4 separate regions of the Homo sapiens genome follow, and regions 1, 3 and 4 are each linked to region 2. Evidence: fine-mapped expression QTL. A gene starts in region 2. Each other region holds a variant in brackets. All regions are shown on one strand. Distances are from middle to middle.

Region 1 (8,000 bases), 120 kb before region 2:
CCTGAGTAGCTGGGACTACAGGTGCACACCACTGTGCCTGGCTAATTTTTTATTTTTTTGTAAGGGGTGGGGGTCTTGCTATGCTGCCCAGGCTAGTCTTGAATTCCTGGGTTCAAGTGATCCTGCTGCCTCAGCCACCCAAAGTGTTGGAATTACAGGTGTGAGCCACCATGCCCAGCCAGGACATGGATACTTTTGAACAGGGAACCCCGATCACTGGAATAAGCAATTTCCTAACAGGGTAAATCTGAGTTGCTAAAATCAACCAAACTTAGGTAAGGAAATAGAATAGGAGGATAGAAAGGTAAGAATGACTATCTTGTGAACTATTAAATTTGTCTAGATTGCTGGCCACAGACACAGCAAGCTGAGAAGGTAGAAATACAGAAAAAGCCACTAGAGGGAGAAAAGAGCCTTTCATTCTCTAACCCCAAATATGAGGAGTAACAGGCCTGAATAAAGTGTCTGCATTCTTTTTTTTGAGATGGATTCTGGCTCTGTCGCCCAGGCTGGAGTGCAATGGCGCGATCTCGGCTCACTGGAACCTCCGTCTCCTGGGTTCAAGTGATTCTCCTGCCTCAGCCTCAGTAGCTGGGATTACAGGTACCCGGCACCGCGCCTGGCTAATTTTTTTTTGTATTTTTAGTAGAGACGGGGTTTCACCGTTTTGGCCAGGCTGGTCTCAAACTCCTGACCTCGTGATCTGCCTGCCTTGGCCTCCCAAAGTGTTGAGATTACAGGCATGAGCGACTGTGCCCGGCCTGAATTCATTTTTAAAGCGTGATTTACTTCTCATTTCTATATTCCTTTATACTCCCCCTCTATGATTAACATGGGTCATTTTGGGTGGGCAGATCACTTGAGGCCAAAAGTTTGAGACCAGCCTGGCCAACGTGGAGAAACCCTGTCTCTACTAAAAATACAAAAATTAGCCGGGCATGGTAGTATACGCCTGTAATCCCAGCTACTCAGGAGGCTGAAGCACAAGAATCACATGAACCTGGGAGGTGGAGGTTGCAATGAGCCGAGATTGCACCACTACACTCCAGCCTGGGTGACAGAGCAAAACTCTGTCTCAAAAAAATTAAAAATAAATAAAAAATAAAACACCGGTAATTTTGGAATCTGGAAGATTTTTCATTTAGAAGCTCTTTCTATTCTGGTCCTGGCTGGATATATACATTACAGATTATTTCTAAGGTAAGGAATTCTTCCTTGCTCAAATGAGTGCCACTTAACTGCTTAGGAACTGCCCAGTACCAAGACAGAGATATTACTGGATGGAGATTTGGGAACTGTATGCCATTTATCAGGAAGTTATATCTGAGAACAACTTTAAATGATTATTTTATTCCCAGATATAAACACACCGGTATTAGGTAGATAGCACAGATAAGGCAAAGCCAAAGCCTCTCTGTTTTTCTTTTGAGTCGGAGTCTTGCACTGTCACCGGGGCTGGAGGGCAATGGTGCAATCTCGGCGCACTGCAACCTCCTCTCAGGTTTAAGTGATTCTCCTGCCTCCTGAGTTGCTGGGATTACATGTGCCCGCCACCACACCCGGCTAATTTTTGTATTTAGAGACGGGGTTTCACTATGTTGGCCAGACTGGTCTCAAACTCCTGACCTCGTGATCCGCCCGCCTCAGCCTCCCAAAGAGCTGGGATTACAGGCATGAGCCACCGCGTCCAGCCTCTTTTCTTGTATTTATTTTTTCTTTTGTTTTTTGAGACAGGGTCTCACTCTGTCACCCAGGAAGGAGTGCAGTGGTGCAATCATTTGTGGCTCACTGCAGTCTCAATCTCCTAGGCCCAAGCGATCCTCCCACCTCAGCCTCCTGAGTAGCTAGTTTTTAAATTTTTTGTAGAGAAGGGGTCTCCTTATGTTACTAAGGCTGGTCTTAAACTTCTAGGCTCAAGTGATTCTCCTGCCTTGGCCTCCCAAAGTGCTGAGATTACAGGCGTGAGCCACCATGCCCTGCCTCATTTCTTAATTTTAAAAAACTAATGAACTAGGATTCTGGCCTCATTTGTTAAACATTCCAAGAGAGAAATTATTTTGCTCTTTTCCTAAACATATATATAATTTACAATATTTGGGGTAGTTAAGTATGAACTCCTACCTATTAGAGAGATATTATTAAAAGACCCACTTGGTGTGACATCACTTGTGACTTAGTCTGGCATATTCTCAGAAGCTATAAAGCTCCTAATCCTTATCCCAGTAGTAAAAACAACTAAGCAGACAACTGCTGTGTCTCTCTAGAATTCTAAAACATTAGTAGTGTTGGTTTCATACATACCTTATTTCACAGGTATCGTAACTTGCCCAACTGATGGCAAAATAAGATATTTAGGCTATTATGACATGGCTATTATGTTAAGAACTTCTCTTGCCTTCTGCTTTCAAATTCTTTCATTTTTTCTTGGTAGAGATGAGGTACCACTATGTTGCCCAGACAGAGCTCAAATTCTTGCCCTCAAGCAATTCTCCCACTTTGGCCTCCCAAAGTGCTGGGAATACAGGCATGCACCACTGCACCCAGCCCTTTCCTCTTTTTATCACTATCAAAGAAACTATGGTTCTCCTTGCTGGGAATCTATCGGTTTTGCTTTTTTTTTTTGTTTTTTTGTTTGTTTTTTTTTTGAGACAAGGTCTTGGTCTGTCACCCAGGCTGGAGTGCAGTGGTGCAATCTCTGCTCACTACAACTCTACCTCCTGGGTTCAAGCGATTCTCCTGCCTCAGCCTTCCAAGTAGCTAGGATTACAGGCACCCGCCACCACGCCTGGCTAATTTTTGTATTTTTAGTAGAGACAGGGTTTCACCATGTTGGCCAGGCTGGTCTCGAACTCCTGACCTCAGATGATCCTCCCGCCTCGGCCTCCCAAAGTGCTGGGATTACAGGCGTGAGCCACTGTGCCCAGCAGTTTTGTTCATTCTTATACATCTCGGGGCTAAGTGGAAATAGCTGTCAGTATATCTGGAGTCCCAAGCTTCCAGAGGATTGTGTTTCAAAAGATCACCCCATGTTGGGTACAGCGGCCCATGCCTAATAGTCCCAGCTACTCAGGAAGCCAAGTGGGGAGGACTGCTTGAGCCCAGGAATTTGAGGAAATAGTGCACTATGACAGTGCTTGTGAACAGCCAATGTACGTCAGCCTGGGCAACACAGCAACACCTCATCTCTTTAAATGATTTTTAAAAATCACCCCAAAATAACATTTTTAAAAAAATTGTTGGGTTTGGCTAGGTGTGGTGGCTCACGCCCATAATCCCGGCACTTTGGGAGGCCAAGGCGGGTGAATCACAAGGTCAGCAGATCGAGACCATCTGGCCAACATGGCGAAACCCCATCTCTACTAAAAATACAAAAATTAGCCAGCATGTAGTCCCAGCTACTCAGGAGGCTGAGGCAGGAGAATCGCTTGAACCCAG[G/A]AGACGGAGGTTGCAGCGAGCCAAGATTGCGCCACTTTACTCCAGCCTGGGCAACAGAGCGAGACTCTGCCTTTAAAAAAAAAAAAAAAAAAAAAAAAAGTTGGGTTTTCAGGAAGTCTGACTTTTTAACATATACTGTATCTATCTGCAATATAATACAATTCCAATACCATTAATAAGATCTTATCAAAATGTCTACAGGAGCAGGACTGAAAACAGGAAAAAAAAAAAGAGTGTTAACAAAGTTTCTATGAAAAATGTTGGGCCCGGCATGGTGGCTCATGCCTGTATTCCCAGCACTTTAGGAGGCAAAGGCGGGCAGATCACTTGAGTCCAGGAGTTAGAGACCAGCCTGGGTGACACAGCGAAACCTCGTCTCTACTAAAAATACAAAACAATTAGCTGGGTACAGGGGCACACGCCTATAGTCCCAGCTACTTGGGTGGCTAAGGAGCGAGGATTGCTTGAGCCTGGGAGGTGGAGGTTGCAGTGAACGGACATCATGCCACACTGCACTCCAGCCAGGGCAACAGAGTGAGACCTTGTCAGGAAAGGGAAAGAGAAGGAAAGGAAAGAAAAATGCATTTAAAAGTTCCAATTTGGAATGTGAAGAATCCACCTAACATTTCTTTAACTCTTTCTCCCCAATGAAGTGGGATAAGTTACTTGCTCCAGAAGGGTAAGAGAGATTATAAAAGCCAAGTAGGTTGCTCAGGTTCATGATCTCATTCACCCATATCCTTTTCTTGCAAACAATCTAAAAATGAACCTACTTATATAATATTCTGCTGGCACTACCTATAACTTACAAGTATTTTTCTCCTCTTCCAGGACCTCTAGGGAATCTGCCTGAGGTTTCCTAAGAGGTTTTTTTGTGGTTGTTTTTGCTTTTTTTTAAAATGGAGACAAGAGTCTCACTCTGTTGCCCAGGTTGGAGTGCAGTGGCACGATCTCAGCTCACTGCAACCTCTACCATCTGGGTTCAAGCAATTCTCACGCTTCAGCCTCTCAAGTAGCTAGGAACACAGGTGTGTGCCACCACACCTGGCTAATTTTTTCATATTTTTAGTAGAGACAAGGTTTCACCATGTTGGCCAGGCTGGTCTCAAACTCCTGACCTCAGGTGATCCACCCGCCTCGGCCTCAAAGTGCTGGGATTACAGGTGTGAGCCACCGCTTACTAAGAGTTTTTAATGTTACTACCAAGAATAATGTTTGCTTATGGAGCATGGTTTTAAAAAATAATCCTGGGACAAGACCAGTAAGTAGACATCAAAAGGTAGAGAAAGTAACATGTGTAAAGTTATAACCATTTCTTTCTTCTTCATTCTCCACCAGTCCAGCTTCTTAGAGATTCTGCTTTGGATGAGTCCTACAACAAACTCAGCAAGGTCATTTGGAGGGCAACTCAACACTGAAGACTAATTCTCACAGCTATCAGCTGTTTCTGAACTATTTATAAACTGACTTTTTTTTTTTTTTTCAGACGAAGTCTCGCTCTGTCGCCCAGGCTGGAGTGCAGTGGAGCAATCGCGGCTCACTGCAACCTCCACCTCCCGGGTTCACACCATTCTCCTGCCTCAGCCTCCCAAGTAGCGGGGACTACAGGCACCTGCCACCATGCCTGGCAAATTTTTTGTATTTTTAGTAGAGACGGGGTTTCACGGTGTTAGCCAGGATGGTCTCGATCTCCTGACCTCGTGATCCACCCGCCTCATGATCCACCCGCCTCGGCCTCTCAAAGTGCTGGGATTACAGGCGTGAGCCACCGCACCCAGCCTAAACTGAATGTTTTAAAAGCTAGGGTTGGCTGGGTGTGATGGCTCATGCCTATAATCCCAGCACTTTGGGAGGCAGAGGTGGGCAGATCACCTGAGGTCAGGAGTTCGAGACCAGCCGGGCTACCATGGTGAAACCCCATCTCTACTAAAAATACAAAACTAGCTGGGTGTGCAGGCACGCGCCTGTAATCTCAGCTACTTAGGGGAGTAGAGAGGCAAGAGAATCACTTGAACCCAGGAGGTGGAGGGTGCAGTGAGCCTAGATCGTACCATTGCACTCAGCCTGGGCAAAAAGAGTGAAACTCCATCACACACACACACACACAACTTGGGTTATAAGCTGGGTGTGGTGGCTCACAACAGTAGTCCCAGCACTTTGGGAGGCCAATGTGGGAAGATCACTTGAGGCTGAGAGTTTGAGACCAGCCTGGGCAACATAGTGAGACTCTGTCTCTACAAAAGTATTCAAAAATTAGCTGGGTGTGATGATGCACACCTGTAGTCCCAGCTACTTGGGAGGCTAGGGCGCGAAGATAACTTGAGCCCAGGAGTTGGTGGTTACAATGAGCTATGATCATGCTACTGCACTCAAGACTGTGTGACAAAGTGAGACCCTATCTTAAAAAAAAAAAAAAAAAAAAAACTGGCTGGATGCTGTGGTGCATGTCCATAATCCGGCACTTTAGGAGGCTGAGGAGGGAGGACCACTTGAGCTCAGGAATTCGAGACCAGCCTGGGTAATATGGCAAAAACCTGTTTCTATAAAAATACAAAAATTAGACAGGCATGGTGGGATGTGCCTGTAGTCCCAGCTACTCAAGGGGGGTGGGGTGTGGGTTGGGGTTGAGGGGGGAAGATCGCTTGAATCCAGGGTATCAGGCCACTCACTACACGCCAGCCTAGGCAACAGAGCGAGACCTTGCCTCAAAAAAAAAAAAAAAAGCACCAAAAAAACTCATAAAAAACAAAAAGAAAAAAAAAACCCCAACTAGGGTTATCTATACTATGATTCACTGCACAGGGAGACTCAACCATTGGCCAGTTCCAGGTACCTCTCCTTACTGTGTGCTCTACAGTTTCAAGTACTCAACCTTGAAAGACACCAGAAAAAAAGGCCTGGGAAAACATGTTGCATGTGTGAGTGAAAGAGAGAGTAACATACATGTACAAGTGAATGTATATGTATATGGGGGAGCTGGGGGAAGTGGTACAGATACAGCAAGAATGCAGAGACTTACCACATGAAGATAATTTGCTTTCTGACACAAGAAAAGCTAGGCCCATGTTTTTGGATGTAATAAAAGCTGGGACTCCACAATAAATACATCCTAAAACTCCTGGAATTATCTGACAAAAAGACTATTTTTCTCCTCCTAAGACGGCCATGAAGATTAGAATGAAGGTATATATTAACTCACTTCCATTTGGCCTATCAGCTCTCTAGTGCCCCCTTTATCTAGAAATGACCATTTTTTCTCTTAAGAGTAAGAACTACGATTCTCTGTAGGCTAAGCAGTTTTTGAGGCACCTGGTTTCATTTGGAAATAAAATGAATTTATGGTCAAACTCGATGATATATCTTCTTTTAAGAATCTTTAGGATGAAAAACACCCTCCTCTCATTGGAATTCATTCCATTTTCACAGGCTTTATGAGACGACCCTATCCCTGGAGGCAGCTGAACTGAGCCATACCTCCGTCTAGCACTCATATCCACAGGCTCATCATTGATGTTTTCTTTGCCTGGCCTTCCAGCAGTCCTGTTGTCTCCATGAGGCCTGAGATTCCCGTTAAGTTTTTCTTCATAGCCCTTGACACCACTGCCATCCTGTTTGGTGGGTAACTCATGTGGCACCTCAAGATTTGCCAAATCCTTCCTTTTGAGCAATGCCAACATTTTCAGACGTTCCATGGCCTCATGCCCCTCCATTTTGAGTCGCTTTGCCAGGACATCATCTCGCTCATCTGCTGGGTCCAAGCTCCGCTTCAACAGATTCAAGCGAAGAGCATCTTCTGTCATTCTATCCATCCTATGGAAAGAAAAATACAAGTAAGATCAGAATAAAGTCCCTTAAATAGTCCATTTTTAAAAAGGTGGAATGGTGAAGTTATTAACAAGAATCTCTCTCTCACACATACACACACACACACACACACACACACACACACACACAAAGTTCAAAGTTAACTAAGCTATGTCCTACCTGATATTGTCCTAGAACATTTATATTAAAGGAGATTTCTGGGCATTCAACCCAGCAATTTAAGTAAACTTAAATCTACATAAGCAAGGCCTGTTGACACGTGCCCTTAATTCTACATGGATACAGATTGAAAATCTTTTTTTTTTTTTGGCTTTTATTTTATGTTCAAGGGTACATGTGCAGGTTTGTTATATAGGTAAACTGCATGTCACCAGGGTTAGCAGATTCAAAATCTGAAGACATTTAAGATGCTTTTTAAAATGAAGAACTCAGGTGCTTAGCCTGATAAGAAGCACTATTTTTTTCTTTACTCATGAAGAAAAAGTGTTAACGACAAGCTAATTAATCATTATCTTCCCTTTTCACTTTGATTTTTTTTACACTAACAAAATCTAAATGTAGGCCGGACATGGTGGCTCAACTTGTATTGTCAGCTCCTCCAGAGGCTGAGGTGGGAGGATGGCTTGAGCCCAGGAGTTCAAGACCAGCCTGGGCAAAATGGTGAGACCCCATCTCTACAAAAAAATTAAAAATTTGTCAGGCATGGTGGCACATGCCTGTAGTCCCAGCTACTTGGGAGG
Region 2 (8,257 bases):
CAGCACAGCGATGGCACGCCGGCTGCGCACAGCTCTGCCCCCCAGTGCCCGACCCCGCTCCACGGCGCTCAGCAGGCCCAGTGCCCGTGCCTGTCGCTCTGATAGCCTGGCCCTTGGGAACGCCTCGTAGAACTGCAGGGCGGCACCATACACCTGGCAGGGGGCAGAAGGGTAGTCAGGCAGGCCCTGCATAGCCTGGACCCCTTGCCACACTCCACACACCCACCTTATCACCAGCTGCACCCGTGAGCACAAAGGTGGAGAAGACGGGCACGGGGTACTTGGTCTGGGCAGGCCAGCACTCGATAGTGGCCCCCATGGGCAGGCAGAAGACGGGCACTGACTCGGGCAGCGGGAACGCCTCATTGTCCTCCTCCGGGTAGCGGCCCAGCAGCTCTGCACCCCCAGCATAGTTGGGGGTACCCAAAAGGAGCAGGGTCCATCAGACTCCAAGGGAAATGAACCAAGGGATCCCAGAGAAGGCCCGAGTAGCAAAGAGAAAGTAAACTCTGGGGACACTTAAGGTGCCTGCCAAGAGGCACCAGGGCAAAGGGATGTAGGGTCACAGGATTGGAGGGATAAAGGGGCCACTCACCTGCCTCGTACACCAGCGTGTTGGCCTTCGCCAGGCCCACCTTATAGCACAGGTACACTGCTGGGCCCCACTACCCCAGAAATGGCAAGAGACAAGCAGATACATAGCTAACAAAGGTTTCTGGGGTCCACTTTCTCTCTACCACCCCTAAATGTTCTTTTGTCTTTAAAGCTCCCATTAATCCCAGTGCCCCAAGACCAGAGTTACCCCTCTGGACTCACCCCTGTGGTCAGAGCCTTGGTCCTGGGATGCCCTTTGTTCCCAGTGTCCACACCCACTCTTACACCAAGAGGACCAGGTGTCAGCTCTTGGCCCCACTCACCATGCCAGGGTTGAGGTTGCGGGGCAGCCGGCAGTAAGTATGAGGAGTGCCCTCGCCCTTACTGGGCAGCACCAGGCAGAGGTCAGTGATGCCCAGGGCATGCAGCCCTGCCCCCTCTGCTGCCCGCCGGTAAGTGAGGTAGGTGCGGGGGTGCCCGGGGCCTGGAGGGGCCAGGTTTGCTGAGTGGCTGTAGGGTGTCGTGTCAAGCACTTGGAAGCCAGGCTTGGGACGTTCCTTCCCCTCATACAACACCCTTGGCACAGAGAGCAAAGATAGATGTTGAGAGGTCAGGGTAGAGGACAAAGACCCAATCCTGCCAGATCTGCCTATCTAATCCCCTGAACTTGCCTTGTACCCACAGCCTTGTCAAACTCTAACACTAGGGCCCACCTCTTCTTGCTGAACTCTGCCCTCCAGAATCCTGTGCCCTTTCTTTGGCCTTTGGCCTTATTTCATGGTCAGCAACAATCCTGCATGCCTTCTATGGCTCTCATACTCATTAATAAACACTAAGGGTCAGCTGGGCACGGTGGCTCATGCCTATAATCCCAGCACTTTGGGAGGCCAAGGCAGGTGGATCACCTGAGGTCAGGGGTTCAGGACCAGCCTGGCCAACATGGTCAAACCCCATCTCTACTAAAAATTCAAAAATTAGCTGGACGTGGTGGCACATGCCTATAGTCTCAGCTACTCAGGAAGCTGAGGCAGGAGAATTGCCTGAACCCAGGAGGCGAAGGTTGCAGTGAGCCAAGATCACACCACTGCACTCCAGCCTGAGTGACAGAGAGAGACTCTGTCTATAAAAAAAAAAAAAAAAAAAAAAATAGTTATACAAGCTACCACTGACTGACTCTGTTAAGTCTGTCACATGGGTTATCTCATTTAATCTCGACCATCCTATGAGGATGAATTATTTTCCCCATTTGACAGATGAGGAAAACAGGCCCAGAGGAGCTCAAAAACCTGCCTAAGCTCTCAGAGCTAGCAAGGAGCAGCACTAGCACATGAAATCGCATCTGTAAGGACTAAGTACATACAACTTCAGTCCTTCCTTCCTGGCCCCTGGCCCACCAGGCTCCCATCCCCATTGCCCTTCCCTTGTTCCATAGTCCTACCTCTCCCTGTCTCACTGGAGTCCCTCCCAGCCTCCCCTGGTGCCAGCATGGGTAGGGGCACACACCCCAGCTCAACGAGGGGGGGCTTGTCACGGCCCCTGCGGTAGCAGATGACGGGTTGAGTTCCACCCAGAAGTCCAGCACTGAGTTCCAAGGGGTGGCCCCCAGCAGAAGCCTGGATGCATGTGTAGCCCTGGGGCACTTCCTCGCCCAGTGCCCTAGCGATGACTGCCACATCTGTGATGGGCTCAGCTGGCCGGGGAGGGCGCAGGGGCCCACTGGGTTCAGGAACCCACGTTTCCTCAGGGATGGGTGCTCCGTTCCCTGCAAGCCCAGCTACCACGAAGTAATCCACCAGCCGGGGGGGCCGCTCCTCCGCCATGGCCCCCCCCTCACTCACTGCATCTGGAATGGTCAAGTGGGAGAGAGATGAAGCAAGGAAGGCTGGGGATGCCATGGCAACCAGGGTACCCTCTTGCTCCCCTCCTCTTCCTAGTCCTTCCAAAGAAAGGCAGGATAAGGGGTCGGCCAATCCTGAACTCTTCCCCCTGTGACATCACTGCCCACCACAGCTTCTTAAAGAGACCAGATCCCTCCCACTTAATGGTCCTGGCACTCCCCTCAAAGAACCTAAACTCCACCACACACAGCTAACCTGAGCTATGACATTCACATTGTCCATGTGTCCCTTTTAAAGGCTCACCAGTTATAACATCACAGAGATCACAATCTTTTTTGTAATAGCCTTCCATGACATCATTCATGCTGGCCATGACATCATACCAACCTTACAGTCTTTTCAAGGGTTTCTGACCTTCCTACTCTAGTTATGACACCATAAGAACCTTGTGATCCTGCCAATGTTCTTAAAGAGCCCACTCCTAGGTTTTTAAGAGGACCCCATGGGTTTCTGAGAAAGCCCACAAAACCCAAGCTTTAAGAGTCTTTTCAACGAACCCAAGTGTCCTTTCTCCTAGCTTAACTCCACCAATCTGGCCCAAAATCCAGTGTTCTCACACCTCCAGGATCCTTAGGTAGCTCGTTAGATCCAAAGCAGTTGTGAGAGACAAGTCCCGGCCATCCCACACCCTCCACCATGGAGCCCAGAGACAGAAACAGGCCCACAACAGCCTAGTTCTCACCTGCCTCCATGGCCCAACCCCGGGGAGTAGGAGCCCCAAGGGTCCTGAGGCGCCCCAGGGTGCAGAAGCTGGGAAAAAGCCTGGTGGGTAGCTCGCAGCAGGGGCCCAGAAGCGTGGGGGGTGCTTCAGAGGGGAAGGGAGGTTACTTCCTGAAACAGTGGAGGGGAAGCTGCAACTCAGAGGAAGTCAGCCTATGGGTGTGTGTGGTGGCGGTGGCGGTGGTGGGGTTACCATTGAAGGTGCCAGCACAGCATTACGCCAAGTTGGAATCTCAGACTATAGGATCCTGAGCAAGGCAGAGGAGGCTCAGAATGGTTCCAGGATGTGCAGTCCTGCTAACCTCCTGCTGTTCCCCCAGAGAACAGGGAATAAGGAATCTCATAGAGCCAGGCTGGCTTTCTTCATCACCTGGCCTCTGGACACACACACACACACACACACGCACACACACACGCACACACGTACACACACCAACCCCAGCTAAATTTAGACTCCACTTCTGGGAGGTAAAGCCAGGAGTCAGCGTCAGCCTCTTGATTTAATTCTGGGGCACAGACCTGTCCCTCATCCACTGAGGGCGAATGGGAGCCCTATGCCCAAGGCAGCAGGCAGAGGCCATTAGGTGGGACCTTCTGAGGGGCAAGTGGGTGGCACCCATCCGCAGGACCTGCGCACCGGGGCCTCCCCTCACCAAGCCAGGGAAGAGTCCTGCAGAAAGCAGCCCTTTCTCCCTAGGGAAGACAACGGGCACAGGGCCCACTCCGGGTCCCCACGCCCGCGTGCCGGGTGACGGGAAGTTCGGGTTGGGGCAGAGGGCGCGCCGAGGGGGAGGAGGCTGAGGAAGGAGCAGGAGGGCAGAGAAGCAGGCGCGCCGGCGGCCGAGGACGTGACGGCAGCAGCGCCGGCCGCCGCGTGACCCAAGCGGGAGGGAGGGCGGCTCCGACTCCGGCACCCACGGGAGCAGAAGGGGGTGCAGGAGGCCGGGCACGGCGAGCTAATTGCGGGAGGTGCCCTCCCCTCCACTTTCACTTCCCCAGGAGAGAGGAACCGGAACCAGATGTGCAGTGAGGGACAGCAGCTGGGGGCCATCCCCCACCCCGCCTGCCGCCCGCGCTCCCTCCTGCCCGTCCCCGCCTGCCGCCCAGCCCGGTCCAGCCCCTACCTGCCTGTCCCGCGCTTCCCGGCCGGCCGGCCCGCTGGCGGGTGGCTCGGAGGGCGAGCTGGCGGGCCGGCGGGCGGCGGGGCTACCCGGCCCCAGACATGGCGCACCCGACTTGGGCGCCGCTCCCGCCCGGGCAGTGAGTGAAGGAAGAAGAGGCGGCCGAGGACCGCAGAGCGCGGGGCGCAGTGGAAGGAGATCCGGGCGGTCCCCGCGTCCCCGCCGCGCTGCGCCACGCGGGGACTGTGCTGCCGCGCTGCTCGCTCGGCCGGCTCGGTCCTCCCAGCTCCCGCGGCGCCGGGGACCCAGCGTTCCTCCGCGCGCCCCGCTTTCTCTACTCCCCCAACCCCCGCTCCGGGCCGCGGGCGCCGCCGCTACCCCCACCCCTCCTCCTCGGCCGGCGGCCGTGACCCTGGCAAGCGTCTGCCCAAAGCCCAGCCGCCTGCAGCCCGACCCCTGGCGGCTGGGAGGGCCCCCTGCACCCAGGTAGCTTCCCACCATCCAGCCCGTGCCTCAGGACACTGACCCCAGGCGACCCAGAGGGCCGCGGCGCGCTCCCTTCCCGCCTGGGTCCTGCAGTCAGATGTGGCAAGCATGATGTGGGCGCAGGTGAAGTCCCGAAGGTCTAGTCTACGGGGACCCAGGTGGCTCCCCCTACTTCCAGGTTTAGGGCACAGGGCATTCCCTTTGGACCAGAACCAGAAGCTCTCAGTTCTCTTTTTTGAAAATGACAAGAGCTTTGGAAAGAGGAAGAGAGGCCAGGACTGCAGGGTGTGGAATAGAGCAGTGGAGGTGGGGGTAAGGTAACTGCGGGGCTCTACTTTTCTCACTATGCGGGTTGGGGGAGTGAGGGGTGCAGAGGCCCACACGGCTGGTCCAAGGGCTGGCAACCCAATCCAGAAAGAGAAAACCTTCAGAACATGCATGGCACTGAAGGATCTGTTTAATTAAAACTAAAATGAATGAGTGGTGAAGAGTGGAGAGGGTGAAGTGAATGCATGCATAGTGAGGGAGTGAGGATGAAGGCTTGCTTCCCTGAGACCTAGGAGCACTTCAGACCTGTGGGCTCAGCCAGCAATCACCTCCTTACCCGACTCACTGCCAGACCTAGGGTTGAGGAAGAGGAATAACTTGTCTGATCAGTCAAAGCCCCCATCTGATGCTGCAGCAGGGCCCTGGACAGACAGGAGGGCACATGAAGTGATTTCCTGCTGCCGTGGAAGCCTACATCCAGCTGGGTACAAATTCCGAGGCTGTGGGGCCCTTCCACAAAGCACAGTGGTGCTAAGAAGATGCAAAAAGCCTAATAGATAAAAAGACCCATGGCCCTATAACTCCCTAGATCCCCAGCCATGCCCCAAATAACTAACCACACCAAGGGTTTGATATGATTTTTTTATTAACATATAATAATATATTTAATAAAAAATAGTATCCACTCTGGCTCTCTCCTCCACTGCAAGGGGAAGAGTGGTGAGGAGGGGCTGGCACTGCCCACCCCTAGGCATCCGGAAAAGCCCTGCTTCCAGGGCTCCCCTCTACCCCTGCTTTCCAACAGGCTCTGACCTCCAGACAGACGGTTCAAAGTTACAAGTGCTTTAGGCCCTCCCTTGAGTTCCCCCAGGCCCATCCCTTGCGCAGAATTCAGGGGCCACCTGGACAAACCCCTTGCTTTTTCTCATTCTTGGCATCCTTCATTCATGCTAGAAAGAGGATCTGGGGACAGAGAGTAGAGTCTCTACCTGCCAGGGGGAAGGGAGGAAAGGAATGGTGGTGGGGGATGGGGCCAAGAAGAGGGATGGTGATGAGGTGCCCTCATTGGAGCCGGTCACTGCGGAATGACTCCTCCACAGCAGGATCAGGCAGCAGGGCACAGGGGTCACTCAGCATGTTTAGCCCTTCCAGGCCCAGTGGCTCCATGCGCAGCTCATCTTCTAGCCCAAGCCCTAGCTCCAATCCAGCTGCTGACACCTCAAAGCCAGGCACTCCGGCCAGGGCTGCTGCAATCTCCTTAGAGAAACCTGGAGAGGAGTCCCCTGTGGGTAGAAGAGACAGGTGAGGACCCCATGTCCTGTAAACTTTTCCAAGACCCCTCAATCTCCTACTCATTAGTGAATGTGTCACTTCCTCCTTCCATTTCCCATCACCACCCACCCCCATTCACCTGTGAGGATGATGTTAGGCCCTGAGCCATGGCGGGAACAGTGGGTCAAGTTCTGGTGGTTGAAGGTGTGGGGATCCTGGGGGCCACCCATTGGCCCCTCACCCCCTAAAAATCCAGGCCCTTCAGAAAAGCCAGGGGGATCCAGCACCAGGCTGGCTGATGGGCTCTCCATGCTGAACTGCTCCAGCTATAGACATACAGACAAATCTTTAGGAAGTAGGATTTAGAACTGGTGTCCTGCCTAGCCCTGCTAACATATCCCCTTTGCCCAGCAACCTTCATCCACCCCAGGAACAGAGGCAATGACAGAGGGAGGTGGCAGCAAGCAGAGCGACAGAAGCGAGCACGGGGCCCGAAGTAAGTATGGGCACCGTACCTGCTGGGCCAGAGCATGTGCATGCCAGGAAGAGAACGGGTCAAGGCAGAAGTCATCAAAGAGCAAGCTGAGCAGAAATAGAGGGGCAGGAGTAGGGTCAAACGCAGGAAGAGAGGAGCCCCAAGCTGGCAGTGCTATGTTACCTCCGGGGAGAGGAGATCTCCCCACCACCCACCCCACCTAGATCTCCCCATTCACAGTGCACCAGCCATGCCATTCAGGCCCCATTGACCCACCCTCACCCACTCCCCTGCTTTTGAGCAAGGAGCCTGAGTACTCACATTCCCCAGGTTGAAGTCACTCATTGGCCGGTGGTAAGACTGTTGCCCATGCCCACTGGGCCCAGGTGGGTACGGTGTCCCATAATGAGACTGCCTGCCTGGGGGCTGCCCACCTGAGGACTGCACTGAACAAGACTGAGAGGGCAGCCCTGGCTGCTGTAGAGACTTTGGGGTGTGGGGCTGGGTAGGCAGAACCAGACTTGGGGAGCTGTATGGGTATGGGGGTAACCGCTGGTCAGTGGACAGTTTACTGGTATCCAGGGGGACGCCCTGAAAAGAAGTAAAAAGAGGGAAGCTTACTGCTCAGTGTATACCCCAAGAACTCTCAGTCAGAGCTTCCCACCTTCTTTAGCTACAACCATTCCCAAAACAAACATGACAACATTCCACATTCTCACGGGCATCCCTGGGGTTGAGTGCAGTTACTCAACCCCAGGGATGTGTATTAGTTGGCAGGGTGTGGTGGCTCATGCCTGTAATCCCAGCACTTTGGGAGGCCCAAGGCAGGTGGATCACCTGAGGTCAGGAGTTCGAGACCAGCCTGGCCAACATGGTGAAACCCCGTCTCTACTAAAAATATAAAAATTAGCTGGGCATGGTAGCAGGCGTCTGTAGTCCCAGCTATTCGGGTGGCTGAGACAGGAGAATTGCTTGAACCCAGGAAGTGGGAGGTTGCAGTGAGCCAAGATCACACCACTGCACTTCAGCCTGGGCAACAGAGCGAGACTCCGTCTCCAAAAAAAAAAAAGTGCCTATCAGAATGAAAGTGATATAGTGAGGCTAACACAGGGGTAATTTTAAATCTACTCCAGAAGTAAACTATTCTCTTTTTTTGAGACAGGGCCTCACTCTGTTGCCCAGGCTGGAGTACAGTGGTGCAATCATAGTTGGAACTGTAGCATCAACCTTCCTGGTTCAAGTGATCCTCCCATCTCAGCCTCCCCAGTAGCCAGGACTACAAGCGTGCGCGACTGCACCTGGGTAATTTTTTATTTGTTGTAGAGACTGGGTCTCACCATATTGACCAGGCTAGTTTTGAACTCCCGCCTTGGCCTCCCAAAGTGCTGGGATTACAGGCATAAGCCACTGTGCCTAGCCTTAGA
Region 3 (8,000 bases), 200 kb before region 2:
AATTCTTGGTTTCCCAGGAAAGCCAAGCCCATTCTGGGCTGGGACCTTGTCGAGTTAAATTGCTGTTTCATTTTTATACTGAATTTATCATCAAGATCCTTGAAGACAAATGAATGTTTCCAGTTGGGTGGTTTTAAAGAGTGATATGATCCAGTCCAGCACATCCATTTTAAAGAAATTGTTGGCAAAGATGAGAGTAGATGGGATGGAGTTAAAGTTTAACTTCCTCTTGTGTGGGTTTTTTAATCTCTGTGTGTGTGTGTGTGTGTGTGTGTGTGTGCGTGCGCATCATTGGCTGTGTGTGGGTTTTTATAAATACCATTCAAATTCCATTTAGTCATCTCAGTGCAAATTAGTCTTGCCTGCTGGAAAGTTTTGTTTGTTTGTTTCAGGTGATCTGAACCAACCTGGGTAAATCAGTAAACCTAAGTGAAGGGGGCAGAGTATGTGTGGTATTTCTAGCTCTTTGCCTGGCCTATCAGTAAGAGGCCACTGGGTTCTGCAGTGTAAATGCTTATTATGTCATGAATTTGGCCATCCAGACACAGCAAGAGACTAGAGTATCTCCTCTTCTTTTTGCCCTATAACAGCCCCATGTGGGAGGCCCAGGCCCTCTGGGGAAGTGAAGCATTTGCCTCGGGTCTCATAGCTGGTTGACACCTTTGCTAGCATTCATGTTCACATGCTAAAAGTTTCCAAGTAAATCCCCTACCTGTGAGCCTTCCTGGGCCAAGCCTCCAGGTCAGGCCTCTTCAGACAAAGGCAGTAAAGACAGAATTAGGAGGACACAGTTTTAGGCGGGTGAGGAACTATCAAGTAGTGACTCATTCAGAGACCTTGAGCCAGGTCAGAGCATGATGGAAGAATTAGTGACGTATCTCCCTAGAGCTTTGCTCCTTCTCCCTAAAAGGGTGATTATTTTGTAAAAATACTTCTGTCCTACAGAAGTTTTAGGTGGGAGTTACTGATGAGGACTGATTGTAATGCATCATTTTAGGCTTCAGCTTAAAGCAATGGGACTGTTTTCTAAGGATTTGTATTTGGGGTTAATTCTGCCTTTGGAACAGAAACCTCAGGATGTATTTGAGATTTAGTTGTTCTTGAATCTTCATGGGCTGAGATGGGAAGTGGATATGGTGGAGAAGTGTGGAAACTGAGTCTTGAACAAATAGAATACTGCTATAAGGAAGGTTGAGCTGAGGAGCCTCTGTTAGTACTGGCAGGCAGGTTCAAGGAGTTAGGGCCAACTCTCTGGGACTTAGTGGGTGGGATTAGGATGGATTGAACAGGTGAACAAGAGAATTCAGTTAAGGAGAAAGCAGGTCAGTATTGGGAAAGAGTAGAGGATGCATGGGGTGGATTTTGTCTCACTTGTACCTTCTTGATTTGCATCAGCCCTCTTGGCAGCCCTTAGGAATGTTTATATCCTTTGAGTTTATTTATTTTCTATTTGGTGTCTGAACTAAACAGCTGGGAGCAGGCCTGGCTGGGGAACTGTGGCAAGGAGGGAGGCTAAGGTAGAGTCCTAAGCTGTGCAGGTGCTGGCAGTCAATAGATAAAGGTAATGGGAAAGGGTCTAATGTCAAGGTCTGTCTTCATCAAAGGGTCAAGGACTCAGGCCCAGGCAGCTCTTGGTCTAGGTATTTCTCCCAGCAGGCAGCTCTAGAAAGAAGCTTGGGGGCTCTGGGGCCTAGGCTGACACATCACTGCTCTTGACACATTCAGGATAGATGCCATCCAGTCACCAGTCACTTTTACTTTTCTTTGAGACTCTCCACTTCTCTTTTCCTCACTGAGGGTGTGCATGTGCGTGTGTGTGTGTGTGTGTGTGTGTGTGTGTGTGTGTGTGTGTGTTTCATCTGCTGCTTTTCCAAGCTGGTCAGCAAACCGACACAGAGGTCGGTAACACAACTGGCAGCCTTAGGTGTATGAAACTCTCGGTTCTCATTTGTTACCAGCAGTTGTGGTTAGTAAAGATCCCAGATGGAACATGGAACTAGGCAGACAGTATCTGCTGTCTTCATCTGACCCTGTATCTCCTGAGAGAACTTGTCCTGCTTCCCTGTCCTGAGTCTGTTCTGCATTCATTTGAACAACAAGGTTCTTCTCTAGTTAGTAATGTCTGTCTTTGGCCTGACACAGATTTTCCCTCTGCCTCTACTTCCTTTGTCCTCTGCCCATTCTGTGACTTACCTCCAGGGGAGGGTCCAGGACTTAACTATCAATATTTGACAGTAATTCACTGGGACCCTTCATCTCTTTCTTGTTTCCTTATTTGTTTTTTTGGTCTCCCAACCATCAACCATCCCCCAGAGGGAGTCATTCTCTTTTGGGGATGAAGTTTATGGCACATGGAGGATCTCTCACTGTGGGTATTTTCATCATCAGTTGGTTTGACTTAACGACAATAGAGGCAGAAGGAAGTGGCAATAGCTAATCTGTTAGGAGTCTCTCAAGGCTAGAGAGCAGATGGTACTGAGGGGTACATTTCTTTTGAATGCATAGGATGAAAGAGTTTAGAAATGTTGCTGCACGGAGTGGCTCATGCCTGTAATCCCAGTGTTTTGGGAGGCCAAGACAGGAGAAAGGTAGAGTCTCAAAACTATTACAAACTCATACCGCTATTCCCAGCAGCCTCTTCTGGTTATTTCTAACGTTGATACAAGAGGTGGTTAAGCATGTTATAGAATTGGAGTGCCTGGATTTGAATCCTGGTTCTTCCTCTAATCTCTTATGTCATCTGGGGCAAATAACTTTTAAGCTCTCCATGCCTATTTCCTCATCTGTAAAAATAATTATAATAAGTAGTACTATTTTAAAAGGTTGTTATGTATATCAAATGCAGTAATATATACATATATATATATTATTGTTGTTGATGCCATCCTTGCTGTATTATTGCTTGCTATAGTATAACAACATCCTTGCTGTACTTTTTTTTTTTTTTTGAGACAGGGTGTCTCTGTCACCCAGGCTGGAGTGCAGTGGTACGATCTTGGCTAACTGCAACCTCCACCTCCTGGGTTCAAGTGATCCTCCCGCCTCAGCCTCCCTTGTAGTTGGGACTACAGGCACGTGCCACCACACGTAGCTAATTTTTGTATTTTTAGTAGAGATGGAGTTTCACCATGTTGGCCAGGGTGGTCTCGAACTCCTGACCTCAGATGATCCACACGCCTCGGCCTCCCAAATAGTGCTGGGATTACAAGCATGAGCCACCATACCCGGCCCTTGCTATACTATATGATTATTATTTTTGATGCCATCCTTGCTACTGGTCTTCAGAGGTTGTGGGAAGCTACCTGCCTAGTTTCTACTCTTTCTGATGAGATCCTGACGGGATAGAACTCAGCAGGCTAAGGAAGTTGCTAATGAGGCCCCCTAAGGTATTCCTCCAGGAGTCTGGTCTCACAATAGAGACAGAGTGAAAAAAAAAAAAAAACTAAGGGGGGAAGGGAAGCAATAATCTCACAGAAGAAATTAGCATGCCCTCCCTTACCTCCCCCAGGATTTGGTATGCTAAAGCACCTTTCCTTTTTCAATAAGTGGCAGAAGGAAAGGGCATCACAGAGAAAAGAATAAAGATATTTAGTTCAGCTGGGTATGGTTGCTCATGCCTGTAATTCCAGCTACTGAGGAGGCCGAGGTGGGAGAATCACTTGAGGCCAAGAGTTTCAGCCTAGGGAACATAGTGAGACCTTGTCTCTAGAAAAAACTGTTTTAAAAATTATCTGGGCGTGGTGGTGCATGCCTGTAGTACCAGCTACGCAGAAGTTCGAAGCTGCAATGAGCTATGATCATGCCACTGCACTCCAGCCCAGGCAACAAAGTAAGACCCCAAGTATAAAAAAACTAAAAATTCAAAAAAATATCAGTTTTGGTTCTGTCCTTAACTGTCTAGGGCCCTGCCCTGGATCTTCTTCCCTTACTACTCCCTTTGCTGTATCTGACTGGGTCAGTACTGGTCTAAAAACCTCTTTGGGATCCTTTTTGGCTTGTTCAACCAAACCCATTTTGCAGTGACCTTTTACTGACTGGCAGGTGAAAAGCAGATGGCCTCCACCTGGTTTTGCTCAGCCTGTGGCATCAAACAGTATGACACTTCCTAAGATGGGAAGTGGGGGGGACAGGGATAGTACTAGGAGCCTTGCCCAGCAGGCTTTTCTCTCCCCTGCCCCCGAGACAGAGTTTCGCTCCGTCGCCCAGGCTAGACCCAGGCTAGAGTGCAGTGGCGCGATCTCCGCTCACTGCAAACTCCGCCTCCCGGGCTCACACCATTCTCCTGCCTCAGCCTCCCGAGCAGCAGGGACTACAGGTGCCCGCCACCGTGCCCGGCTAATTTTTTTGTATTTTTAGTAGAGACGGGGTTTCACCGTGTTAGCCAGGATGGTCTCGATCTCCTGACCTCGTGATCCACCCGCCTTGGCCTCCCAAAGTGCTGGGATTACAGGCGTGAGCCACTGCACCTGGCTGCCCAGCAGGCTTTTCTGCCTCATTAAAGGATAACCAGTACCTTTTCCCCACTCTGTGTGACAGAACAAGGGATAGGTTGGGAATGCAGGACCCCTGTGGAAAGAAAGTGTCCAGAATGAAAAGTATTTCATTGCTACTCGGTGTCTTATTGGTGTTATTTAAGTTTAAGGGATTAGAGGGCAAGGGGTCCACTGTGGGTGGGGTGAGGACCTTATCCTCAGCTTGCTGGCTGATCACAAACTTTACTTCTCACAGTGTTACCGGGACTTAGCTCTGGTGAGTCGTGATGGCATGAATATTGTCCTGAATAAAATCAACCAGATACTTATGGAGAAGTACCTGAAGCTGCAGGATACCTGCCGTACTCAGGTAAGGCCAGAAAGAAAAGACAAGATCCAGCTCAAAGAGAGAGGATGGATCTTCTCTCTGTCAGGAACGGGAAAGAGGAATCAGGGCTAACACACCCC[T/C]ATCATTGTGTGTCTAAATTGTAATGTGCTCCTTTCAGTTGTAATTGAATTAGCTCCCTTCTCAAACTCACAGTTCCTGCTCTTCATCTGTTTTTCCCTCTTTCCTTTAGTTGGTGTGGTTGGTACGGGAACTGGTGAAGAGTGGGGTTCTGGGAGCCGATGGTGTTTGTATGACGTTTATGAAGCAGATTGCAGGTGAGTTTGATGGCAGGAGCATAAAGAAGAAAGGAGGAGAGCCCAGAGACTACATAGAGACAATGGAGAATGATTAAGTGCCAAAGGGATGGAATTCTTGGATTGCTTAGACTGTTTCCTTCTGATACAGACATCTTCTGGCCACATATGTTGTAGAAATAAATTGATTGAAAAATCATGGGGGGCCTTTTAAAGCAGTAAGTCTTGCCTCATTTTCTTTCCTGCTAAACCCAGGGCTTGACAGAATATTTGGCCTATTTTAGCCAGTCTTCACTCTGAGATTTTATAGCATTTCAGAGCAGGAAGAAATGGGGAGAGAAGTGAGGGCAATTAATTTGTTCTCAAGTCCCTGTGCTTTCAGAAACCTAGACATCTTCCCTGGCTCCACCCCCATTATCTGAACGCTTGCTCCCTAATAATTAAGCCCTTTACTGGGGCCAGAATGAGGGACAAACTATGTCACAGAACAGACCCTGACATTTAGGTTTTATTCTCATCTTGGCATCGGTGACATCTGTCTGAGCTATCGCATATTCAAGCGGCTACTCCCAAGATTGCATGTGTTTGTTTAAAAGTGACCTGCTACTACCTCACCATTAGCCCACTGGGACTTGCTTCCTCTTTAAAATTTTATGTAACACTGATGCTCCTGTTTTGATGTGTATGAACCTTAATCTATGTGATATGTGACTTTGTGAACATTGAATTTTTTAATTGAGACCTGGGGCAAGGCATAGTTGTAGCTATTTTTATCCTCTTTCCTGGCACTTCTTCCCTGTTTGGCACTTCCAGCCCCTGCTTCTTATCCCAAGACTGGTATGGCATTGCTGTGTGTTAATTCTGCCCCACAGAGTTTCATAGCAAGCACTAAAGACTGTTACCTGGAAATAAGAAACTCTTGGCCTGTTGGGGGCCTCAGTGCAGGACTCAGGACATCCAGTTGCTAGACTGCAGCTGTTGTCAGCCACCTGTACTTCTCAGGCTCTATCTGAGATATCATCCTTTCTTTCCAACTGTGGGCTTCTTATATCTACTTCTCAGACGTTCATTTTCAAGGGCCAAAATGTTCCCACTCCAACTCACAATCTGTGGGAAAGTAGCAGCTCTGGTTTCTAGAAAAATTCAGAACCTTCCCTTTCCTTCTTTCTGGAGGCAAAGGGTGAAACTTTAAAGCCTGACAGAACAGAAGGCAGTTTATCTCAGCAGTGAAGGGATGGCAGTAATGGGATGGCAGTCAGGGTGGACCAGCAGAATGGGTGAAGAGATGTATTGGATTGGCTGACTTGCTAATCGGAGCTATTCTTTTTTTCCCCTTTTGAAATCAGGTGGAGATGTTACAGCCAAAAATATCTGGTTGGCAGAAAGTGTTCTGGATATCCTGACAGAGCAAAGGTAGCATCCACCACGAAGGGTGGGGTACAGGCCAGATAATGGCCATTAGGAGTGTGGGTGTGGGAAATGGGGATGAAAGGATTGTGTGGCCCAAGAACACCTTAAGTTAGAGAGGGGGAGGCAAGGAGAGGGAGAGACAAGTGTATTGTTGGCAAGTGAAGAAATTAATGCCCAAGGAATGAAGGAATGGGAAAGAGGTCTTTGCCAAAATATCGCATAGCCCAGAAAAACTGGCTTCATCTGATAAGGGTTTATTTTTGATCCAGACCTCCTTGGAATGTTTATCTTAGGGGGAAGTTGGGGAGGAATGAGCTCAGTAGAATTGGGCCAGCCAAACACCCACGCCTGGCAGGTATCCTTTTCTCCCCTGCAAGCTTCTCCATCCAACCCCTGCTCTTTTTGAAGTGGCACAGGGGGCAGTTGGGGTGGAGCAGGTAATAGAGATTAGTGAATCCTGCTGGAGTTTGCATATAGGGTTTGGAGGTTCCAGTGGTAGAGGGTGCATCAGGGGGTACATATTGGGCTTTCTGGCTGATTCTTTCCCTTATCCATCAAAATAAAGGGCCAGAAATTTTATGAGGGCTATTCCACATCTGAACTTGTTTGGAGGTGAGGCTTTCCCCTTGGTTTCAGTCTTCCTCTTGCTTGACTTCTAAGTCTCTTTTCTGATTGAGGACACCATAGTAGTCAAATGATTGAGAGGGCTAATAGTGTCCATACTATCTGTAGTTCAGAAGAATGGACCTCCTCCCAACGTTCACACTTGTGAAAGAGATGGCTGTGTGCTGTGCTCTGCCCAGGTCTGAGAGCCCTGCCCTGTCTGCTGTGCAGTGCCACCTAGTGCTCTGGGCACGGATGTGCAGCCACATCTGGGCCTGGAGCCACTTCTGTTATTGGTGTCATTGCACTAGCACGTGAGATCCTAACAGTCTCTTCTTACCAGATAGGTCTTTGTTCCTTTTTACTGTCCTGGGTCAGGGGGCCTTTCAACTCTTTCTTTCTCTTTATTATGCCATTCCAGGATTCAGGTAATTTCGTTACCTTTGCTAGCAATCTTTCTAAAAAGTGATTTTTCTTATTTTATTCGTGGTACCAAATACGTCCTGTCCCCATACCTTAAAGCTGAATTTCCTGTACAGGCATCAGATAACAGCCAGATAACTGCCCTGTTTTCTACCCTCCAAAAAACTTACATCTTTTGGTGAAAGTCAATACCTAGAAATTTAAAACTGTGTCCTCTCCTACACCCTCCTTCTCACTCCCTTCCAAATGTTTCTAGGGCTGTGGAGTTAAAAGGTAGCAGGTAGGGGAGGAAACGTTCCCCAGTAACCTTGGCTAGTGTATCCATTCTGTGAAAAGAAAAGGCCACAGAGTCTTTTAATTAGGTGGCTTGAGTAGTTTTCCGGAATCAGGATGTGGCCTGCTTGGACTAATTAAACACCATCTCATCTTCCTGCAGTTCCCTGCCTTCCA
Region 4 (8,000 bases), 76 kb before region 2:
GGGTGCAGTGGCACACACTTGTAACCCCAGCATTTAGGGAAGCTGAGGTGGGTAGATCGCTTGAGCCCAGAAGTTTGAGGCCGGGCACAGTGGCTCATGCCTGTAATCCCATCACTTTGGGAGGCTGAGGCGGACGGATCATCTGAAGTCAGGAGTTCAAGACCAGCCTGGCCAACATGGTCAAACCCTGTCTATACAAAAATACAAAACTTAGCCATGTGTGGTGGCACACAGCTGTAATCCCAGCTACTCAGGAGACAGAGGCAGAACAATCGCTTGAACTTGGGAGGCGGAGGTTGCAGTGAGCTGAGATGGTGCCACTGCACTCCAGCCTGGCAACAGAGTGACACTAGGTCTCAAAAAAAAAAAAAAAAAAAAAAATTCATAGCTCTGTACACTAAATTAGTCATAATAGAGAGGTGAGAATGTTATAAGTATAGCTAATCCAGTAGCAGCCTAGCTATATTCTCTAATGACAATTCATGTATTTTAAAAGAGCAAATAATGATCCAAATAAATTATTTCTCAACCAAGCTTCTGAGATTAGTGGGCCTGTGTCCTCTACTTACAACTGTACAGGTGAATGAAAGACGATTTGTCTTCTAAACTGTAAACAAAATGCACTTTCAGTTTCTGGCAAAAATCACATAGCAATGGTCTTGCACCATCTCCAACCTGCCCTAATGCAAACCAGATGGCTGAGCTCGTTCCAAGCTATCTAATGCTTCCTATTATCAATCAATCCCAGTAATTATTCTGCACTTCCCAAGGATATAACCTCTCCATTTCAGTTTCCTAATGAATTTATACACACACACAAACCAAACTGCAAATTCCTCAAATGGGGGTAAAAGGCCCTAAAGAAAAGCAGAATGGGTACAGAAAAGGTTTCATTTTTGATGCTACAAAGAAGTGAAATTATTTCCAATGTACCTTGTTTTGTTTTGTTTTGTTTTGAGACGGAGTCTTGCTCTGTCGCCAGGCTGGAGTGCAGTGGCACAATCTCAGCCACTGCAATCTCCGCCTCCCGGGTTCAATAGATTCTCCTGCCTCAGCCTCCTAAGTAGCTGGGATTATAGGCGCACACCACCACACCAGCTGATTTTTGTACTTTTAGTAGAAACGGGGTTTCACCATGTTGGTCAGGATGGTCTTGATCTCCTGATCTAGTGATCTGCCTGCCTCAGTCTCCCAAAGTGCTGGTATTACAGACTCAAGCCACCGCCACCTGGCCTCCAATATACCATTTTATAGGATTACCTTAGAGGTTGGAATTAACTGTCAGAATGGAAAAGGGTATGGACAAGGGCTTGAGAAGAGCACACCTCGGTGTGGTATGGGAACGCTACTATTTCTAAGAGGAGACTTAGATAACATAGAACCAAAAGAAACCACACTGATCTCCTTACATGACAGAAACAAACAGAACATATCAGACCCCAAACTGCTTATTATACTACAATATATCTGGCAAGGTTAGCAACCAGGAGGTTAGAAATAAATTTGGCAAATCAGAGAAAATAATCTGACATGAATGATTATGGAAGACACCCGCTTGGGAGGCTGAGGCAAGAGGAGTGTCTGGACTCAGGAGTTTGAGGTCACAGTGAGCTATGATTGCACCATTGTACTCCAGCTTGGGTGACAGAGCAAGACCCTGTCTCTAAATAAATAAATAAATAAAATCAAGGACCCCAAAGAGAGCAGTAACTAAAAGAGTCACATAAGAGGCCAGGCGCGGTGGCTCACGTGAGCCTGTAATCCCAGCACTTTGGGAGGCTGAGGCGGGTGGATCACCTGAGGTCAGGAGTTCAAGACCACCATGGCCAACATGGTGAAACCCTGTTTCTACTAAAAATATAAATACAAGCCGGGCATGGTGGTGAGCATCTGTAATCTTAACTACTCAGGAGGCTGAGGCAGGAGAATTGCTTGAACCCAGGAGACAGAGGTTGCAGTGAGCCAACACGGTGCCACTGCACTCCATCCTTGGCGACAGAGTGAGACTCCGTCTCAAAAAACAACAAAAAAAAGAGTCACCATATTAGAAACAGAATTAAAATAAAATTTTAGGCCAGGCACAGTGGCTCACGCCTATAATCCCAGCACTCTGGGAGGCTGAGGTGGGCAGATCACCTGAGGTCAGGAGTTCAAGACCAGCCTGGCCAATATGGTGAAACCCCGTCTTTACTTAAAAAGTACAAAAATTAGCCAGGCGTGGTGGTGCACACCTGTAGTCCCAGCTACTCAGGAGGCTGAGGCAGAAGAACTGCTCGAACCCGGGAGGGAGGAGGTTGCATTGAGCTGAGATCGTGCCACTGCACTCTAGACTGGGTGGACAGAGGCAGACTCCATCTCAAAAAAAAATAAATAAATAAAAGAAAATAAAAATTTTAAAATTATTAATGCATTTAAAAATAAACCCATTCCATGTTAACATAACTTCTTTATGAAAAATATTTTCCAAAATAACAGAACAATTTAGTGAGAAAAGTGGCCTTGTTTTATATTTTTACAAATCTCTTTAATGTCTGGCTTAATAGCAGACAGCTGGATTCTCATAGCTGCCTCTGCATTCAATGTGCAGTGATGTTGTTCTAGTTAACAGCATGGGGGACGGGGTGGGGGTGGATGTGGTCTCACACAGATACACAGGAAGGTAGGAGTTCTTTTTTAAAAAATTTAAAGTCTTTAATAAACTTATGTTTTAAAACTAAGTTCTGAAATAATTTTAGACTTACAGAAGTTTCAAATATTCTTCACCCTGCTCCCCTAAATGTTAACATATAAACACAGTACAATTATTGAAACCAGGAAACAATAGTGTTTATTAACTACTCTACAGATCTTATTCACATGTCACCAGTTTTCCCACTAATATATATACTATATACTTTTTTTTTTTTTTTTTGAGAGATTCTTGCTCCGTCACCCAGGGTGGAGTGCAGTGGCACCATCTTGGCTCACTGCAGCCTCCCCTCCTGGGTTCAAGCCATTCTCCTGCCTCAGCCTCCCGAGTAGCTAGGACTACAGGCACGCACCATCACACCTGGCTAGTTTCGTATTTTTAGTAGAGACGAAGCCAAGATACTTAGAAGCCACTGTGTAAATATCCCATCTCCAATCAAAATTCCACATATTAATTTTAGCATACAAAGACAATTCTTGCTGGGCACAGTGGCTCACGCCTGTAATCCCAGCACTTTGGGAGGTCAAGGCAGGCAGATCACCTGAGGTCAAGAGTTCAAGACCAGCCTGACCAACATGGTGAAACCCCCTCTCTACAAAAATACAAAAGTTAGCCAGGCATGATGGTGGGTGCCTGTAGTCCCAGCTACTTGAGAGGCTGAGCCGGAAGAATCACTTGAACCCGGGAGGCAGAGGTTGCAGTGAGCCAAGATAGTGCCACTGCACTACAGCCCAGGCGACAGAGCAAGACTATATCTCAAAAAAAAAAAAAGACAACTCTTGCCTGCAACAAATACTGTAGTATTTGCCTAATGTTTCCATTATTCCTTTTCTATTTATCAACTTGAGTTTCACTGCAGAAAACAATTGTTTTCTTTCCCATATTTATTTATAGCAGCATAAACTTATGGATATTTATTTTACCCCATGGGTTATAATCTATTTATCATTATTTGTTTTTCAAACTGTCCCAGATCTGGCCATTGAAAGCTCCTTCAAGCTGGTTCTCTATTACTTTTTTGG[C/T]AATTTATTAGCTTCTGGTATCCACACGATGTTCCAGGTTCATCATCTTTTTTTATCTGCCCTAGCCATGTCTCCAAGCAGCTCTGGTTCCTCTTATTGGAGAATGGTGTTGCGAAACCAAGATCTGGTGTCAGGTGTGCTCACTGCTAGGTGGTGTCACTACTTCCAGGCCCTTTCAGAAAAGGAAATAAAATGCATGCATACACACGTAACATCCATATCTTTTTCTATATCTATATTTGCATATGTGTGTACCACTTGAAGATCCCTCATCAGAAAATCCAAATTGGGCCAGGTGTGGTGACTCACACCTATAATCCCAGCACTTTGGGAGGCTGAGGCGGCAGATGCCTTGAGCCCAGGAGTTCAAGACCAGCTGGAACAACATGGCAAAACCCTGTCTCTACATTTTCCTTTTTTTGAGATGAAGTCTGGCTCTGTCATCCAGGCACAATCTCGGCTCACTGCAACCTCTGCCTCCCAGATTCCAGCAGCAATTCTCCTGCCTCAGCCTTCTGAGTAGCTGGGATTACAAAGGCCTGCCACTATGCCCAGCGCTAATGTTTTGTATTTTTAGTAGAGATAGGGTTTCATCATGTTGGCCAGGCTGGTCTCGAACTCCTGGCCTCAAAAGATCCACCTGCCTCGGCCTCCAAAGTGCTGGGATTGCAAGCATGAGCCACTGTACCTGGTCACCCTGTCTCTACTTTTTACTAAAAAAAGGAAAAAATCCGGCCAGGCACAGTGGCTCACGCCTGTAATTCCAGCACTATGGGAGGCCAAGGCGGGCAGAATCACGAGGTCAGGAGATCGAAACCATCCTGGCTAACACAGTGAAACCCCGTCTCTACTAAAAAAATTTAAAAAATTAGCCGGACGTGGTGGCGGGCACCTATAGTCTCAGCTACTCAGGAGGCTGAGGCAGGAGAATGGCGTGAACCCAGGAGGCAGAGCTTGCAGTGAGCAGAGATCGCGTCACTGCACTCCAGCCTGGGTGACAGAGCCAGACTCCGTCTCAAAAAAAAGGAAAAAATCCAAAGTACTTCAAAATGTGAAAAAAATTCCACATCAAAATGCTGTCAAATGCAGTCAAAACTTTGCTTTATGCACAAAATGTTGTTATAAAATGACCTTCAAGCTATATGTTTAAGGTATATATGAAACAAATCAATTTTGTGTTTAGGCTTGAGTCTCACCCCCATGATACCTCATTATGTATACAGAAATATCCCAAAATCCAAAAAAATCCAACATTGGAAACACTTCTGGTTTCAGGCATTTTAGATAAGGGATACTCAAACCTGTGTATATGTGTATATATGAGAACCCATTATTTCATACTGATACTAGAGAGAGGTTTTTTTTGTTTTTCCCCAAGACGGAGTCTTGCTCTGTCGCCCAGGCTGGAGTGCAGTGGCACGATCTTGGCTCACTGCAACCTCTGCCTCCCCTCTTGCCTCAGCCTCTGGAGTAGCTGGGATTACAGATGGGTGCTACCACGCCTGGTGTTTTTTGTTTTTTGTTTTTTTTTGAGACAGTCTCGCTCTGTTGCCCAGGCTGGAGTGCAGTGGCGCGATCTCGGCTCACCACAACCTCTGCCTCCCGGGTTCAAGTGATTCTCTTGCCTCAGCCTCCCAAGTAGCTGGGACTACAGGTGAGCACCACCATGCCCGGCTAATTTTTCTATTTTTAATAGAGACGGGGTTTCACTATGTCAGGCAGGCTGGTCTCAAACTCCTGACCTTGTGATCTGCCCACCTCAGTCTCCCAAAGTGCTGGGATTACAGGCGTGAGCGACCACACCCGGCCACTTGTTTTTTTGTATTTTTAGTAGAGATGGGGTTTGCCATGTTGGCCAGGCTGGTCTCAAACTCCTGACCTAGTGATCCATCTGCCTTGGCCTTCCAAAGTGCTGGGATTACAGGTGTAAGCCACTGTACCCAGCCAGAGAAAGAGGCATTTTTAACAGCCTCTTAAATTTATTAGAATCGTGGATATTTTCCTTGATATTACTGAAGCAATTCTCCTGCCTCAGCCTCCCGAGCAGCTGGGACTACAGGTATGCACTGCTAAGTCTGGCTAATTTTTGTATTTTTAGTAGAGACGGGTTTTACCATGTTGGGCAGGCTGGTCTCGACCTCCTGGCCTCAAGTGATCCGCCCACTTCAGCCTCCCAAGGTGCTGGGATTACAGGCATGAGACACCGTGCCCAGCCTGAATTGTACACTTTTAAATGGTTAATTCTTTAGCAGGGCATGGTGGCCCGTGCCTGTAGTCCCAACTACTTGGGGGGCTGAGGCAGGAGGATCACTTGAACCCAGTAGGTCAAGGCTGCAGTGAGCTGAGATCGTGTCACTGCACTCCAGCCTGGGTGAGAAAGTGAGACCCTGTCTCAAAAAATAAATTAATTAGTAAATTAATAAATAAAAGTTAATTTGATGTTTATGTGAAATTTAACTTAATTTTTAAAAAGCAACCTAGGCTAGGCGCGGTGGCTCATGCCTGTAATCCCAGCACTTTGAGAGGCTGCGGTAGGCGGATCACTTGAGGCCAAGAGTTCGAGACCAGCCTGAACAACATGGTGAAACCCCATCTCTACTAAACATATGAAAAAGTAGCTGGGTGTGGTAGCGTGTGCCTGTAATCCCAGCTATTTGGGAAGCTGAGGCAGGAGAATCACTTGAACCCGGGAGGCAGAGGTTGCAGTGAGCTGAGATCCCGCCTCTGCACTCCAACCTGGGTGACAGAGGACTCTGTCTCCAAAAAAAAAAAAAAAAAAAAGCAACCCAGTAATTTCTAAAGGTTAGCAGCAAATGTGAACTCTGAAACCCTATCAATGAACTTTTGTATTATTACATTAAAATACATTGGTCTACTTTATACTTTGAGTGGATCTCTCACCAAATCTGATTTTGTCACATAATATATTGGTCATGTGAAAACTTCTAGTTCACTAAGTCATGCAGCTCTTTCGAAGGTTGACATATTACATAATATCAAAAAAAAAAAACCCCACAAAACTAACTGGGAAGTGGACCGTCTCATGGTGGAGTATATAAACTTTCCAAAATTCTCATTTTTGCTTTAATTTTATCACTGGGCAAAAATAGTTGTTTTCCTTGAAAATTTTCAAGAAAGCATCTGCCAAATACCCAAGTCTAAATAACGTACTTTGTTGGTTATTCTTTCATCAAGTAAAAATGCTGTTCTATGAAGAAGACAACTAGTTAGCTGGAAACCCAAATAACTGTAAAAGTACTTTTCCTTAGACAACCACAGTACTTCAATATATAACAGAAGTGTTTTTTGAGTACTTCCCATTTTATCACACAAAATATTCAAAAGCCAAGTACTAAAAGGTCAAGATTAAATAAAATTAATTTTTACTGCTTCATCAAGAACATTCTTAAATGAAACTTTTTTTTTTTTACTGCAAATTTAAACTGCATGACAATAAAGAACACAATGCCTGCTACTAGTTTGGTGCTATTGCTCAGGGTTACCCTAACGTTTTAATCAGCATTGCTTTTGGATATCACTGCAAATGTTAACACAGGGAAGAAGGCAAATGATGACTTAGTATTATTATGAAACTATTCTGATCTCACAGACTCCATGAAAGGAGTCTATTCTCTAGGATTCCACAGACTACACTTTGAAAACTGCTAGGCTACTCTAACACACTTGTTTAATAGGTAACCTACCAATTCATATTTATTTCCAAGTTTAATGCAAACTACTTGACAGCAAATCTCTCTTCTTTGTACTTCGCTTTAATACCCCGCAACGATTTGAATGTGTCCCCCAGAAGTTCATCTGTTGGATACTTGGTGCCCAATGCAGGCGTGTTAAGAGGCGAGACCTTTAGGAAGTGCTTGAGCCATTCTCAGATTAATGGGTTATTCAGAGAAGGGGCTAGTTAGCACAAGAGTGGGTCTGTAATAAAAGCCAATGTGGCTGTCTCTCGTTAGTCCCCTCACCATGTGATGCCCTGTGCCACTCTGGAACTCTGCAAGGTCCCCACCAGCAAGAAGGCCCTCAGCAGATATGGCCCCTTGACCCTGGACTTTCCAGCCTCCAGAGCCGTGAGAAATAAATTTCTTGGGGCTGGTCATGGTGGCTCATGCCTGTAATCCCAGCACTTTTGAGAGGCCAAGGTGGATATATTGCTTGAGTACAGGAGCTCCACTCCAGCCTAGGCAACATAGTGAGACCCCATCTCTACAAAACATTTTTAAAGCAATTTAGCTGGGTGCAAAGGCACATGCCTGTAGTCCTAGCTACTTGAG

The links.
Region 1: its variant is fine-mapped to the expression of DENND4B in whole blood (TOPMed, PIP above 0.99).
Region 3: its variant is fine-mapped to the expression of DENND4B in whole blood (TOPMed, PIP above 0.99).
Region 4: its variant is fine-mapped to the expression of DENND4B in whole blood (TOPMed, PIP 0.93).

The regions. Positions count from the first base shown.
Region 1 is chr1:153,821,104-153,829,103 of GRCh38, forward strand. It overlaps GATAD2B (GATA zinc finger domain containing 2B), which reads right to left. Exons shown (of 11, transcript NM_020699.4): 2 at 6,910-7,245. The coding sequence starts at 7,244. Among named protein-coding and RNA genes, the nearest start is that of SLC27A3, 50 kb to the left of the region's middle. The variant G/A (reference allele first, on the strand shown) is at 3,436.
Region 2 is chr1:153,941,961-153,950,217 of GRCh38, forward strand. DENND4B (DENN domain containing 4B) reads right to left here and starts at 4,758. Exons shown (of 28, transcript NM_014856.3): 1 at 4,341-4,758; 2 at 2,098-2,437; 3 at 918-1,170; 4 at 596-665; 5 at 227-396; 6 at 1-153. The coding sequence starts at 2,414. It overlaps CRTC2 (CREB regulated transcription coactivator 2), which reads right to left. Exons shown (of 14, transcript NM_181715.3): 12 at 7,155-7,424; 13 at 6,498-6,684; 14 at 5,715-6,369. The coding sequence ends at 6,149. RefSeq lists enhancers at 3,010-3,109, 3,430-3,479, 3,948-4,448, 5,260-5,329 and a silencer at 3,970-4,869.
Region 3 is chr1:153,742,229-153,750,228 of GRCh38, forward strand. It overlaps INTS3 (integrator complex subunit 3), which reads left to right. Exons shown (of 30, transcript NM_023015.5): 4 at 4,729-4,842; 5 at 5,051-5,135; 6 at 6,461-6,527. Among named protein-coding and RNA genes, the nearest start is that of INTS3, 18 kb to the left of the region's middle. RefSeq lists enhancers at 2,547-3,286, 3,287-4,026. The variant T/C (reference allele first, on the strand shown) is at 4,941.
Region 4 is chr1:153,865,845-153,873,844 of GRCh38, forward strand. The region is part of intron 1 of GATAD2B (GATA zinc finger domain containing 2B); the gene reads right to left. Among named protein-coding and RNA genes, the nearest start is that of GATAD2B, 53 kb to the right of the region's middle. The variant C/T (reference allele first, on the strand shown) is at 3,712.